2 separate regions of the Homo sapiens genome follow, and region 2 is linked to region 1. A link means that fine-mapping ties the variant in region 1 to the expression of a gene that starts in the linked region. Tissue or cell type: tibial artery. Region 1 holds a variant in brackets; the other region holds the start of a gene. All regions are shown on one strand. Distances are from middle to middle.

What was found. PIP is the estimated chance that this variant, and not a neighbour inherited with it, causes the effect.
Region 2: ANKEF1 starts here. The variant in region 1 is fine-mapped to the expression of ANKEF1 in tibial artery (GTEx, PIP above 0.99). The same link has a PIP of 0.9 or more in aorta and coronary artery.

Annotation. Positions count from the first base shown.
Region 1 is chr20:10,063,163-10,071,270 of GRCh38, forward strand. All of the region lies in intron 3 of SNAP25-AS1 (SNAP25 antisense RNA 1), which reads right to left. Among named protein-coding and RNA genes, the nearest start is that of ANKEF1, 32 kb to the left of the region's middle. The variant A/T (reference allele first, on the strand shown) is at 4,154.
Region 2 is chr20:10,030,174-10,038,281 of GRCh38, forward strand. ANKEF1 (ankyrin repeat and EF-hand domain containing 1) reads left to right here and starts at 4,814. Exons shown (of 11, transcript NM_022096.6): 1 at 4,814-5,160; 2 at 5,406-5,469; 3 at 8,085-8,108. The region is part of intron 3 of SNAP25-AS1 (SNAP25 antisense RNA 1); the gene reads right to left. RefSeq lists a silencer at 4,605-5,154.

The DNA.
Region 1 (8,108 bases):
AATTGATCAGCAATAGAAAATCATGGAATGAGAGTACCTAGGCAGACCTTGTGTGTTCAGACTCTGCAGACCTCTGGTCCATATAACACATGCGTCTCAGTTAGAGATTGAGACTTTTCATGATGTCCAAGGTTGCTACTGCCAGAATGCTGAATCTATCAGCAGCCCTTGTTCTACATACAATTTGGTTTTATTCATTCAGCATATATTTATTGAGCACCGATAATGAAAATCCTAGGTCTGTTCCTTGCTCTCTTCATGGTGCATGACAGGAGAGCAATTCATCCAGTTTGCATGTCCCAGGTTTCTGCATTATTTGGCTTCCAGTAGGATCCAGACAACAGGAGACAACAAAAGATGAGAGAGGGAGGAGAGGAAAAGCCAGGTAGTTCCCCCTTTCCATCTTTGCCTTTGTCGGCATCCCCGTCAACAGCTGTGTCTGTCTCCCCCATGACTCCACTCCCCACTGTGTGGGGAGCTGTGTATCCTGCTGTGGTCCTAGCCTCCCTCATGTGACCCTGGCCCCTAGGCTCTGGTAGTACTACCCACTCCCTCTGTCCCTTAAGCCTCCAAGGGTGGTACCAGCTTCTTTTGTTGTTAGTCTCAGGGCTGCCTCACTGTGCTCTGGTTGTTTCCTCAGCCTCTTCTATTGCTTGTGCAACCAAATCCTCCCATTAACTTCCATTCTGTAGGAACTCAGAGTTGTTTCTGCTTTCCCATGTGGATCCTGATTAATCACGTATCAAGCACAATGGCATGTCTGGATAAAATGGAATGCAAAACCAGGAATAGCCCCTGCCCTCATGGAGTTTATAGTTTCGTAGGAAAAGCATATTTTCATAGAATAATCCTAAAATACTTATGAGATGATTGCACAAGATTGAATAATTGAAGATTATCAAAAGACTCACAAGATTTCACAGTGTGTATTTGAGTAAGGTTTTAATACAGGTGAAGGATACATTAGGACACAGAGCACAGATGATCACAGAGGGGTCTAGGGCTTCCAGGCACAGCCCCCCAGGGTCCATTTTAATCACTCGGTACAGGACACATTTTATCTTCAGATTATATACGATCACCGTAAGTGTGAGTCCAGGTATATAATTTATTGAGGGGTCTTTCATACCCACCAGCCATGTAGCTAAACCCAGGCTGTATACCCTGTTAGACCAGGTACAAACTATCAGTCTATACAGTCCTAAACAATGTAGACAAGCTAATACAGGCTGCCTCCAGGGGAATTTCGAGCTTTAAATAGCACATTGCACATTATAAAGTCCTCAGTAGCACATTTCATTCTTACCTTGACCAGACTTCAAGCATCCCAGGAGACAAACAGAGGGCTACCCCAGGATAGCTGCAAGGTAACGCTACCTTATACAACATATGAACTTATAGTGGTGCTACAGAATAGGGGAAATTTTCACTAATGAAATGGTATTTTAGCTGAACTCTAAAGAATGAGTGAGGAATTAAGTTGACCCAGAGGGAAGAGAGGAATTGAGTAGAAGCAGCAGCATTTTGCAGTGCAGACCCATTCCAGCAAGTGAAATAAAAGCAATGTGACAAGAAATAAATAAAAAATGGTCAGGGAAAAGAGGCCAAAGCCACATCCTGGAGAGATTTGTAAGACAACCATATGGATTTGGAAAGTGATGGATTTCCATTTGATTCTGCTGATTCGTCCCTTGTCCTAGAAATTTTCTTGACTTTAGCAACACCACAGTTTCCTGGTGCTTCTCAATATCCTTTGTAGCCATGCTTTTTGCATCAGGACTCTCAACACCAGCAGACAATAACAAGAGAATTATTAAGACTTAGAAAAAGAGAATTCTTAATACAGAATTTCAAGGGGTGGATTGAGCAAGACTGGAGGCAAAACATCTTCCCTGAAAACCATTTCTCTCTTCCTTGCTTGCTGACATTCTCACTGTCTGGCTCCCTTGCTCTCTCTACTTGGCTTTAGTCTGTGTGAGCTCCAACCTTAGCTAGAATGTAGCAAAGATGTCCACCAGAAGCTCCAGGGTTACATCCTAGAACTCCAAGTGAAATGAGGTACTCTTTCCCAGCTGGTCCTGTGAAAACCCTGATCGCACTCTCAATGGTCAGGCTTGAGTCAAGGGTCTTTCTCCACACCAGTCATTATACAACAGGACACAAGATTCTGATTGGCCAGATCATTTTGTCAGCCCATGACTCAGGGAATGAGTCACTCTACCCAAAACACCAGACTGCTACTTGTATAGGTGTGGGCTCCCAAGAAAAAGTAGGGATTATTCTTCCCCAAAAAAAGAGTTAGGGATGCTGGAAAGGCAGAAAGAAAAGGGAAGGGAAGAGGAAGGGGAAAAGGAAAGAAAAAAAAGAAAGAAAGAAAGAGAAAGAAAGAGAAAGAGAAAGAAAGAGGAAAGAGAGAAAGAGAAAGAGAAGGAAAGAGAAAGAAAGAGAAGGAAAGAGAGAAAGAGAAAGAGAAAGAGAGAGAAAGAAAGGAAGGAAGGAAGAAAAATGAAGGGAGGAAGGAAAAAGGAGACAGGAAGGAAGAAAGAAAAAGAAGAAAAAAGAGAGGGGAAGAAAAGAAAGGAATAAAGAAAGAAGAGAAAGATGGAGAAGAAAACAAACCAAAAAAGTGGCTACTACAACCTCCGCCTGACCATTAAATGTCGGAATTTCTCAAGACTCAGTTTCAAACCTTCATCTCACACTACGAGCTCTCCCTAGGCAAGCTCATTTGCACTCTCTCCTTGGAATGACTCCCACATTTGTGTCTTAAGCGTAGTTATTTCATCTAAGCCTACAGAAACATATCTAATTATACTTGACATCAGTTCTTGAATTTACAAACGCTCCTGAAACTCAACAATTCCCAAATCAAACTTTAGACCTCTACTGCCCATCCTTAAGTCTAGTTTACTTCGAGTGTTTTCTAGTTCAGTAATGGAACCACCAACATTCTGCTATGAAAGCCAAACTCCCAGATATCATCATGACTTGCTTCCCCAAGCACCCACCCACCCCAATTCAACTCCATTTAATCTCATAAATTCTTGTGACTCTTCCTCCTACTATCTCCACCCTTACCGCCGTAGTCTACCTTATCATCTTACCCAGAAAACTGTAAGAAATATTCTGATCTGTTCTTTTATCTCCTTCTGTCCTGCAGTCTATCTATACATTGATGCCAGACAAGTCTTTTCAAGGATGAAAAGTGATTACTTCAGTACTCTACCTACCATCTAATTAAAATACTTTCAAAATTACTGATTTTCTTAATAATATAAGAAAATGTATGTGAACATGGCCTATGATCACCTGAGCGGTCTGAGCATACTTACTCCTCCCCCAGATCAGGCCTTTAAACACTCTGCTGTAGACAGTCTGTTATTTTATTTTATGTACATGCTCCCACCTTCCATTAAGTTTTTGCATAAACTGTATCCTCCTTGTCCAGGAATTCATTCTCCCTCCTCTTCCCCAATACCTCATCTGCTTAATTTTCCATTCCTTTTTCATCTCAGAGAAATCATCTCTTTGTTAGGGCAGACTTCCTCACCTTCCTCACGAAGTTAAATTCTCTTCCTATATACATTCATAGATCACAATGCACCTTCCTTCACGGCACTTACCGCAGTTGCAACTATATCTTCACCTGTGCAATTATTTGAATAATATTTAATTATTTGACACCATAACTGTCATGACTGAACATTCCAAAATATACCACATATTTTCTGGCCACATTGATGGGATTATAACATAATATAAACTTGAATTATTTTAAAATTTGTGCACAACTGAAAATCACGTATGTACTTTCTCAGTGCCTCTTTATGTGGAGAGTTTATCTTATACTAATTCATCCCTGACTATTGTACTCCTGAGTTCCTGCCTCTGTTCTTTAGAATGGTTTCTATTTTTTTTCTGCTGGACTGTATTAGCCTTTCCTTTTGCCACTGGGAACATAGCTGTTTGTAGCTATCCCAGGTGTATAAGTAACCTAAATGGCTGCTTATAATTTCTGCCCACTAGGAGAGGGACTCCTTTACTCCATTAGTCTCCTGTTTGAATCTTAACTCTGCCCCAGGCTTCAGGATACATAAACACTGCCAATCATTCTTAAGAAGTGAAGGGATTGCAAATAAGCAAAGAAAAAGTA[A/T]TTTTAAACATTCTTTCCAAATGACCTTGCAAGAGTTTTTTCCATTTTTAGAGGGAATAGTGGGAGTCAGAATTGGCAGAATAAAAGCAGCGTATTCCTAGACCATATATCAGCAGATAAATGTGTTCTGCAGCATTAAAATTACCCTTGTGGTGCTCATTCCTGGATGTACCATGTGTTCTGTGATGTAAATCAGTACATAGCCTTATATTTTCCTCTGTGTCATGGACCCACAGAATTGCAGTAGCATGAACTGGTTGGCAACAAAATTCTTTCCAGTGCTTCATAAAGCCTTTGGCTTTTCTTCATTTGATATGTGTGAGTAGGAATGCACAAAAAACAAGAACAGATGATATTATTTAAACCGTTTGGTAAGAAATGTCTGACAGGAAAAAAGAAAACATATGTATCGATTCAAGTGCAGTAATTCGCTTGGCGGTTTTCTATATTATCCTTTCTACTTGTAAAAATCATCTCCAATGCAGCAAAATGTTCTTAAATCCTTTATACTTCATTCTAAAAATCAATAGTCCAAAGATGTTAACTCTTTTTGGGCTTTTGGAAAACAAAACAAAAACCAGAAAAGAGAGGATAAATGTTTTCATTTTTATCTAAATTTTTCTGGTTGTTTCTGGTTTTTCCGTCTCCACTTCATTATTACTAACATGGAATTATTGATAAAGCTTAAAAGAAGAGAAACACAAATTCAGACTTTAGGAACTCACTTGAAATCCTTACTTAAAGACTAAAAGTCATTCATTTATTCATTTCATTCAATAAATACTAAGGATCTACTATTTTCCAGTTGGCCTCTTTGGCACTGGTGTATAATGCTACACGCAGCACTCACTGCTCCCTTGGTTCCTGCCACCATAATAGGGAGATAGCAATTAAATAAACACAGCTATATTATTATAAATTGGGATGCATGTTACCATGGAAAAGTACTGGGTGGAGTTTTAGTTTGAGAGTCAGGGAGTGCCTCTCTGAAGAAATGTCTACTATGAGACCTAAAAAATGAGTAGAAGTTGTCAGATTAAGGGGAGGAAAGGTGTTTTAGCCTGTTTTCTGCTACTATAACAGAATACCACAAACTGTGTAATTTATAAACAATAGACATTTATTTGGTTCATAGTTCTGGAGACTGGGAAGTCCAAGGTCAAGGGGCTGCATCTGGTGAGAGCCTTCTTGTTGCACCATAACATGGTGGAAGGGCAAACAAGCAAGTGAGACAGAGAGAAAAAGTAGGCCAAACTCCCAAGATAACTAGCCTACTGCCAAGATAACAGCATTAACCCATTCATAAGGACAGAGCCCTCATGACTAACCTCTTAAAAGCCCCACTGCCTGATAGAACTATATTGACAGTTAAATTTCAATATGAACTATGGAGAACAGTTTGGAGGTTCCTCAAGAAACTAAAAAAATAGCTACCATATGATCTAGCAAGCCCACTGCTGGGTATATACCCAAAGTAAAGGAAATCAATATATTGAAGGGATATCTGCACTTCCATGTTTGTTGCAGCTCTGTTCACAATAGCCAAGATTCAGAAGCAACCTAAGTGTCCATCAAGAGATGAATGGATAAAGAAAATGTGGTACTTATACACAATGGAGTACTATTCAGCCATAAAAAAGAATGAGACCCTGTCATTTGCAGCAACATGGGTGGAACTGGAGGTCATTATATTAAGAGAAATAAGCCAGGCAAGAAAAGACAAACATTGCATGTTGTCACCTATTTGTACGATCTAAAAATCAAAACAATGGAACCCAAGGAGATAGAGAGTAGAAGGATGGTTACCAGAGGCTGGGAAGGGTAGTGGGGAAATGGGAGACAGGGTAGAAAAGGTTAATGAGTACGAACAATAATTAGAATGAATGAATAAGGCCTGGTATTTGATAGCACAATAGGGTGACTGTAGTCAATAGTAATTTAATTGTAAATTTAAAAATAACTGTAATTGGATTGTTTATACCAGAAAAGACAGACGCTTGGGGTGATGGATAGCCCATTTTCCATGATGTGATTACACATTGCATACCTGTATCTAAACATCTCATGTACCCCATGATGCAACTACCATATATCCACAAAAATTAAATATAAAACATTATATAAAAATTTCCACATAATTTTCAAAAGGGATACTCTATAGTGGCGTGGGGAGGCAATCTACACATGAGGGGGAAATACCTGCCACAACTCTGAGGCCAGAAAGAGCCTGGCTTGGTGAAGAGCAGGAAGAAAACCAGAAAAGCTTGCACAAAGATGGTGGTAGCAAGGGGAAGCCAGCTTAGGACAAGGTTGACGAAGAGGACGGGGCCAGATATCGAGGAACTCGCAGGGAAGAGTAAGGAGTGTGGATTTCTTTCCAAGTTCAATTGGTTTTCACATTGCTGATAGCATCTCCCAAGTGATTACAAGTCACATTGCTCTGTATCATCCATAAATTATCCTCAAGAACTCCTAGGGCCATAACAATTTTATGAAGGACTCAGCTCTGATAATAGAAAGTCAATATTTTTAGTCTCTAGCTTTTCAAGTAGGCAGCTGGAAGTATAGCCAAAGGATTTCAGATTTCACAAATGTGAGATCAAGAGACATCTGCTAGTCTCTGTTCAATCTCTAATTTTCCTGTGTCTTTCTAAGTGACACAGAATTAGTAGGCTTAGAATTTGCTGTAAAAACTTGTTAAATCCATGCTTTGTTCTTTAACAGCATCTTAGCTCTTCTGCTTACTAGCTTTGTGACTTGGCAAGTTGTTTGACCTCTCAGATTCTGTTTTCTCATGTATAAAATAGGGACACACTACAGTAGTGATTAGCACTATTCACCAAATATTTCCTGCTCTCTCCACTTTGGACACACGGTAGGATTATACTCTCTGCCCCATTCCCTTGTAGTTAGGTGGTGTCAGGTGACTAGTTCTGACGAATGAGCTATGCATGGAAGTGAGGTTTGCCATTTCCAGGCTGGAGCTTTTGATTGCAAGTGTGAGGCTCTCTGAGCAATCCTCCCCTCTGCTGCCGGCCGCTCTGTCAGCCTAGGAAATATGGAGTAGGATGCAGAGTTGCCCATCAATGGACATGGTGGGTTATAAGCAACTGGGACTTTAGGTTATTGACCAGCCTCACTAACAGACTTACTTCATAGGTTTGTGATTAGAACTTGTATTCATCCATTCTTACACTGCTATTAAAAATACCTGAGACTGGGTAATTTATAAACAAAAGAGGTTTAATTGGCTCACAGTTCTGCAGGCTATACAGGAAGCATAGCAACTTCTGGCTCAGGGGAGACTTCAGAAAGCTTCCAATTATGGCAGAAGGCAAAGGGGCAGCGAGGCACTTCACGGCCAGAGTAGGAAGAAGAGAGAGGGTGGGGAGGTGCCACACACTTTTAAACAACCAGCTCTCATGAGAATTCACTCACTATACAGTATCAAGCAGCGGACGATGCTAAACCATTCACGATAACTTTGTCCCCATGATCCACTCACCTCCCACCAGGCCCCTTCTCCAACACTGGGGACATGGTGATTTGGGTGGGGACATGCATGATTTGACATGAGATTTGGGTGGGGACACAGATCCATACCATATCAGAACTTAATGGGATAATAGACACTAGGCAATTGTTATACTATCTGGCACACTATGAAGTACTAAATATAGGTTTCTATATTTCAAGTAAGCATTACCGGATTTCTCTGCCCAAGCATTTGCGTAGCTTTCAGGATTTAATTTTCAAGCCCAGAATTGAATGATTCAAGTTACCGTTAGAAATATTTACCCTGACATTTAATTATACATGCAAATTATTGGCCATCGTTTGTAAATCATATTTTTGGTTTATGATAATAGGTGATCTGCAAGAACCTCCAAGAACTGAACATTACTGTGCTCACAAAAGTAAACTCATAATGGCTGAAAACATATCTAATCTCCTT
Region 2 (8,108 bases), 33 kb before region 1:
GGGCTTGTGATAGCAAATGAAGTTTCTTATTGGATTTTAAGAAAAATTTTTATAAAAATATGTGAGGTTATTCAATAGAATCACATTTAATTTGCCAAGCATTTTGCAGAATGCCTAGGACTATGTAAGAAGTATTAAATTTGCAAGCCCTTTGAATAGTTGTAATTTAAAGATAAAAATTGGTTTAATACCAGACAAAGATAGAAGCACAAGTTAGGTTATTAGAGAATTTAGCCAGTGTATCAGTTTGTATCGTAAGTCATTGGCAAGAACAACGTGTACTTTTCTGTCACCTCCCAACTAGCTATGTTTTGAGCAGTAGGAATATTTAATACCCCTTCCTCCCATTTTTCCTTTGTGTTGTCCAAATTCTGACAACTCTACTGCCAGATAGCTCAGGGCAAAAATGATAAAGTTCAAGTTAAGAAGGCTCTGCAGTGTTCTCAGTTCTCCTCTGGTGAAAGAGGAGAAAGGTTGTGTTTAATTATGAATCTGGGATTTCCAAAACTTTACCCATGCCCTGCCTGTCCCCTCATTAGCATGAAGCTGTTATTTAAATAGTTCAGCAATAACGACTTTAGTAGCCTCCCTAGGTTAAAAAGATTGAAATTAAATGTGTTTATCTATTGTTCTACTATTCAGTTACCTGATTATAAAATCAAAGATTATTTCATGAAACTCAGTACCCCTTCAGGGAAAAAAAAAAAAAATTCCCTAAAACAAAGTTAGGAGAGTGAATCGGACCACATGCTTATCTCCAAGGTCTCAATCAAACAGCAAATGCTTACCCAACTTCTATTCAAAATATTTGCGCCAGTAGTTCTGATATGACCCAAGCAGAGTTCACACATTATTAATCTACTCCTTTCAGTCTTCTAGATGTGTTTCCTCCAAAATCTACCAGATTCTCAAATAATTTCAGGAACTTTCTCCAGAACAGAAACAAGGTTGTTACTGATACCAACTTTGTCTCCAAACATGGGGAAGATTATCATTGGAAAGATCTATTGATGACCTATAATACATAGTTGGAACTGTTTATCCACAGAAGTATTCCCCAAGAATCAACCACAGAGCCAAGATGGAGCTTATGTCATTGTTATGCATACTTCTTTTACGGCTTGTGAGGGCAGTTCATACTATTCTGATTTTACAACTGAGACCCAAGGAACCTGAGTGACTTCTAGGCTCCATTATGTCAAAAAAAACTCAAATGTGAGGCTTTGCCTACACTGAGAAACAGTAGTTCAAGAAACGGTGCCCTGGTTCTGTTAAAATAATCTGAGAGTTATGTGGTAAGTAGTTGAGAGTGAATAGGGTAGCTTTGAGAGGTGACAGCGTGCTGGCAGTCCTCACAGCCCTCGCTGGCTCCAGGCGCCTCCTCTGCCTGGGCTCCCACTTTGGCGGCACTTGAGGAGCCCTTCAGCCCACCACTGCACTGTGGGAGCCCCTTTCTGGGCTGGCCAAGGCCGGAGCCGGCTCCCTCAGCTTGCAGGGAGGTGTGGAGGGAGAGGCGCGAGCGGCAACCGGGGCTGCGCACGGCGTTTGCGGGCCAGCTGGAGTTCTGGGTGGGCGTGGGCTTGGCGGGCCCCGCACTCGGAGCAGCCGGCCAGCCCTTCCAGCCCCAGGCAATGAGAGGCTTAGCACCCGGGCCAGCAGCTGCGGAGGGTGTACTCCGTCCCCCAGCAGTGCCAGCTCACAGGCGCTGCGCTCAATTTCTCACCGGGCCTTAGCTGCCTTCGCGCGGGGGGTGCTCGGGACCTGCAGCCCGCCATGCCTGAGCTCCCACCCCCTCCATGGGCTCCCGTGCGCCCGAGCCTCCCCGATGAGCACCACCCCCTGCTCCACGGCGCCCAGTCCCATCGACCACCCAAGAGCTGAGGAGTGCGGGCGCACGGCGCGGGACTGGCAGGCAGCTCCACCTGCAGCTCTCGTGCGGGATTCACTGGGGGAAGCCAGCTGGGCTCCTGAGTCTGGTGGGGACGTGGAGAACCTTTATGTCTAGCTCAGGGATTGTAAATACACCAATCGGCACTCCGTATCTAGCTCAAGGTTTGTAAACACACCAATCAGCACCCTGTGTCTAGCTTAGTGTTTGTGAACGCACCAAGCCACACTCTGTATCTAGCTACTCTGGTGGGGCTTTGGAGAACCTTTGTGTCCACACTCTGTAGCCAGCTAATCTGGTGGGGACATGGAGAACCTTTGGGTGTAGCTCAGGGATTGTAAACGCACCAATCAGCGCCCTGTCAAAACAGAGGACTCGGCTCTACCAATCAGCAGGATGTGGGTGGGGCCAGATAAGAGCATAAAAGCAGGCTGCCTGAGCCAGCAGTGGCAACCCGCTTGGGTTCCCTTCCACACTGTGGAAGGTTTGTTCTTTCACTGTTTGCAATAAATCTTGCTGCTGCTCACTCTTGGGGTCCACACTGCTTTTATGAGCTGTAACACTCACTGCGAAGGTCTGCAGCTTCACTCCTGAAGCCAGCGAGACCACGAGCCCACCAGGAGGAACCAACAACTCCAGAAGCGCCGCCTTAAGAGCTGTAACACTCACCGTGAAGGTCTGCAGCTTCACTCCTGAGCCAGCGAGACCACGAACCCACCAGAAGGAAGAAACTCCGAACACATCCGAACATCAGAAGGAACAAACTCCAGATGCGCCACATTAAGAGCTGTAACACTCACCGCGAGGGTCCCTGGCTTCATTCTTGAAGTCAGTGAGACCAAGAACCCACCAATTTTGGACACAGTTTGACAATAAATTTACACTCAAATATCTCTAAGGAATCAAACTTACAGATTAATAATTAGTAATCAGGTCACGTAAAGTAAATTATAAAAGAGCATTGATACCAAGATTGGCAGAAAGTTTTTTGTGTGACAAAACCAAGTTTTGGCTAAGATACACACTGCTGATGGGAGTCTAAATTGCTGTATATGTCGGGAAAACAAGTTGTCTTTATCTTGATGTTATAAATAACCTATGACCCAGAAATTTAACTCCTAGACATATACTCTAGTGAAACTCTTGAACGTGTGCGTCCAAAGACATTTATAAACATGATCTTAGTAGTATTGCTTTTAGTAGCAAATTCTGGAAACATCCCAAATGTCTATCAATAGTGGAATTGATTTGAAAGGGGTGTGGAATGGTAATATAATGGAATAGCCTACAGCTGTTTAGATAAAGGAACTCCAATTAAACATACCAACAAAGATACATTTCAAAAACAAGACGTTGAAAGGAAAAAAGTCATCAAAACAATACACAACATTCTACCACATTTTTATAAATTCTCAAAATATGCAATATTAAACATGCATTATTTAGGGAGGCATTCAATGTAGCAATGCATTTTTAAGAGGCTGGGATGATAAATGTAAAATTCAGAACAGGTATTATCTCTGGGAACAGGAAGAGGAGGATGCAGTGTTGGGAAGAAATACATATAAGTACAGCAGTAGAGGCAGACTTTTTTTTCCTTTTCCTTTTTCCTTTATTTTTCCTAGCTTTCTTTTTCTTTAGCTATGGTATTTCTTTAGCTATGGTATGGTATGGTATGTACTTTCCATATATCATACAGTATATTTTGGTGTGCATGAAATAGTCCTTAATAACATTTTTATTATTTTTTATTTGACGTTTAAGTTCAGGGGTACATGTGCAGATTTGTTATATAGGTAAACTTGTGTCATGTGGTTTTGTTGCACAAATTATTTTCTCACCCAGGTATTAAGATTAGTACCCATTAGTTATTTCTCTTGATCCTCTCCCTCCTCCCACTCTCCACCTTCTACCCTCCAATAGGCCCCAGTGTGTGCTGTTCCCCTCTATGTGTCCATGTGTTCTCATCACTTAGCTCTCACTCATAAGTGAGAACATGCAGTATTGGGTTTTCTGTTTCTGCGTTAGCTTGCCAAGGATAATTGCCTCCAGCTCCATATTCCTGCAAAAGACATAATTTTGTTCCTTTATATGGTTGCATAGTATTCCATGGTGTATATGTACCGCATTATCTTTAGCCAGTCTATCATTGATGAGCACTTAGGTTGATTCCATGTCTTCGCTCTTAACATTTTTAAACAGTCTCTGAGTAGAATAGGGTAGGCTGGTGTAAGGAATTACTGTTTTTAATTGGAAGCAATTACATACTGCATTAAAAAGCATATATATATAGACACACATATATATGTTTTACATTCACATAATCAAACCAAAGCTTTCAGAATTTTCCGCCAAAAAGCATGTGTGGAGGGAGAGAGAGGGGTGTTATGGTGCATTTGTAGGCCCTGAAATAAAGTGATCTCCATATTTGCTTCCATTTGTGTATAAATATTTTTTAAGCATATATGCATCCTAGAGTATGGAAAGAAAATTTCTGGGAAGATTTGCAAGAATCTGTGGCAGTTGAGAGTAGGTTCACTTTCGCTTTATTGTGTAATTTATTGTATTTTTCATTTAATTGTACTTTGTAAACTAAATATTTATTGTATATTTTACTTCATTTTTTAATTGCCATATGCAGCTTTAATTTTATAACTAAATTACGTTCTGACCCAGGGCAGGAGGTGGGAGAAGAGAATGAGAGAAGGGCGGAATCCTCAAGACAGCAGCATTCTGCGCTCCGCCCTGGAACACCCAGCGCAGCTACCCCATCCCGCCCAGGCCGGCCACCTGGCGTCGAAGCCAGGCGCGAGGGGCGGAGGCGGAGGCGGGGGCGGGGGCGGAGGCGGAGGCGGAGGCGGAGGCGGAGGCGGAGGCGGAGGCGGAGGCGGAGGCGAGCACCGCCCCACCGCGCACGCTGCGGTTGCCCCGGCAGCCGCGCCCTGCGTGGCGGAAGCTCACAATCAGCCCGGTCCCTCCGGCTTCCACCCCGCCCCCTGCGCTCACCTGCCCGCGCGCTCGCCTTCCGGGGACCCGGGGCCCATGGACACATACACCCAGCCCTGCTGTCCCGCGCGCCAGCTCACCAGCCCTACCCAAGGGACATCATTCACGCCTGGGCGCCTCCGCCGGGCTCCGGGAGCCCAAGGTCGCGGCTGGGCCAGCGCTGAGCGTCAGAGGACGAGAGCAGGGGCCTCCCCGGTCGCCCCAGCAGGCCCAGGCACATAGGTGCCCAGAGATCCCTGGCTTCTGATCGCCCGGAAGACTAAGAGGTGAGCATGACACATGGCTTTTCCTTTGACGTTACATCTCTACCCCCTCCACTCCTCTCTTCTCCAGATTTTTCTGGAGACTAAAAAGTGGAAAGCACAGTAGAGAACCCCCAACATGTAAACTATCGCTTACACTTGTGGGTGAGCTGAAACCCGCAAAAGTTTGGTGTATTCATAAGGAGCCTATATTGAAGGACTTTGCTAAATGTTTTACAAGGATCATATCTCATTTCCTTTTCACACAGTCCCATGAAGTGGGCACCATTGCTATTGCCAGTTCACAGATGCAGAAACTGAGGTAAAAACTAGGTAGGTAGCATATCCATATTTATATCCAACTAGTTTGTGTAAATAATGATACAGGGAAGGGAGGATCACAACGGATTTCCCCACCTCAAACCCTACATTCCACTGTACCAAGCTTGTCTTCCTCCATTCCTCTTTCTAATGATCCTTCCTTGTCGCACAGCCCCCCTTTGAGAGTTAAATGACCTGAACACACACAGATTCCCACAGATTTTCATGTAATTTCCGAGTATTCAGACCCCGAACATGGACCTCAAGTCAAGACATTCTGCTCTATTCCACTACCTTGGTAGATGGTTAGATGTGACTAAGGTGGCCCAGGGTCATGCTGGGGAAAAGTACAGGTGTGCTTGTATGTGGAGGATCCTATATGCTGCTCAATTTACAAGGAACCCAGGACCCAAGGGCTACACTTGTGTGATTTCCTGCAGTGGGGTGAGCTCTTGGTCAGTCTTAGCAGTTGATTGTGAAGGACACTATACAGGGTGCTGCCCTCTCCCCAGCACTTCAGGGCTTTAGCTGGGAGGGAGGCAGTCCACAGGAAACCGACCCATGGACCTACTGAATTCATCACTGTAGCTGCTAATTAATTCTCCGTTAGAGATGGGTGCTAACAGAGGCAACATTGAAGTCCCTGATTGGGAAATCCTTATTTTCACAAATCAAGTGGCATTGATTCAGTCTAATCATTACCTATGTAGGAGCATCTTGCCCTATTCCATAGATGACACATATACATATGCAGTATGATGACACCGCACCTAATCGGAATATGGCCGATAATAATAAAACAAGCCATAAATAGCAGCTAAGGTGAGTGTCACCAAGCCGTGCAGCAAAGTCCAAGTGGATGACTCTGAGGCAGCCTCAGTTGGTTCCCTAGTCCACCGCATGTTATAAACAGATTAAAAGGCAAAGGAGGCCTGGCCCGGTGGCTCACGCCTGTAGTCCCAACACTTTGGGAGGCTGAGGCGGGTGGATCACCTGAGGTCAAGAGTTCAAGATCAGCCTGGCCAACATGGTGAAACCCTGTCTTTACTAAAAATACAAAAATTAGCCAGGTGTGGTGGTGGGCACCTGTAATCCCAGCTACTCGGGAGGCTGAGGCAGGAGAATCGCTTGAACCCAGGAGGTGGAGGTTGCAGTGAGCCGAGATTGTGCCACTACACTCCAGCCTGGGTGACAGAGTGAGAGTTGGGCTGAGGGTCGAGGGTCATGGGATAGGGCGAGACACCAGGGGAGTGTGTGAGGACAGAAAAGAGTCTTGAGGACCTAGCCCTGGGCACCCAACATAGGCTTCTTGAAATGGGGAGTCAGCAAAGGAGCCTGAGCAGGAGGGGGCATTGGTGTTGGATGGAAGCAGGCGATGGAGATGTTGTGGTGCCTAGAGAGACACATTTAAAGGAGAGAGAGCTCACTGCCGTAGAGAATGTAGGTGAGGGAGCAGGCTTGCGATGGAGAAAAATGGTGCATAGTTTCAACTTTTGTAGTAAGATGGAATCTTTTCATTGCAAATGTTGGAAACTTAGCTAACTAGCTTATACCAAAATAAGGTGACGGGGGAGAAGATGTATTTACCCACAAAGTGGTAGATGGCTTCTGGCACCATGGAATCCATGTTGCAACTAATGCCATCAATCTCAGTCTCTCTCCATCCTCCAAGCATGGACTCTCTCTGTGGCACCCAAGAGAGCTACCTGCGCCCCAGCCCCACACCATACTGCTTAACAACTTCAGCAGAATAGTCTTCCCTCATAGTTCTGGATGATGGGCTGCTGATTGGTTGATGTCTTTTATGCACATATGCTTGAGCTTCAGTGTACCTGGAAAGGGATGGTTCCCTCAAATGGGCCAAGCCTAGGCCACAGACGCTTTCCTCTGGCAGGGGACAGAAGGGACAGCCCCATCCAAACGACCCGGATAGGATTCCCTATGTGATAATGGAGTTCTTTTCTCATAAGAAATGAAGAAACAACTGGTCATACCTAGCATGGCCTGCTACTCAATCCAAAAGATTTTCCGTACAAGGAGGTAAAATTACATACTAGAATGCCCATCACAATTTAACAGGGAGATTGTTTATGAAGATTTGCAGTTTCCTTGCAGCCATTTAACTACATCTTTTCCACTTAAGATGACATAGGAATCACTCATCACATCTCTGATATGTTACAGAGCCCAGTAGATTTGTTTATAATGAACACCTCAAAATTATATGTTTTTATAACACCTTAAAACTATTAAAACCTGCATGATCTCTCTATTTTGCTGGTGTGAAACCATGTAGATAGATGGTGGGAACTCAAACCCTTACCATGGCAATTTAGTTAACCTCAGCTTCTTCATGGTAAAATGGTAAAGTGTGATGAGGAGGGAAGGTTAAATGGATAATAAGAAAACCACCTGGCAAACTATTTTTAATTATGATGGAAGATTTGTTTGAACTGTTTTAACTTTATGCCCACTCAATATTTTTGATATTTATGTATAAATCCTACTTTCTGAACATTTCTTAAAAAACAATCTCTGTTCTTAAGGAAGTTCCAAAATATTGTTATTTAATCAAAATGAAGATGATAAAATTAACTTTGAGTTATTTTTCTTTTTTGTTGCTTCAGCTTTAGTTTTGGTCCAGAAAGCAT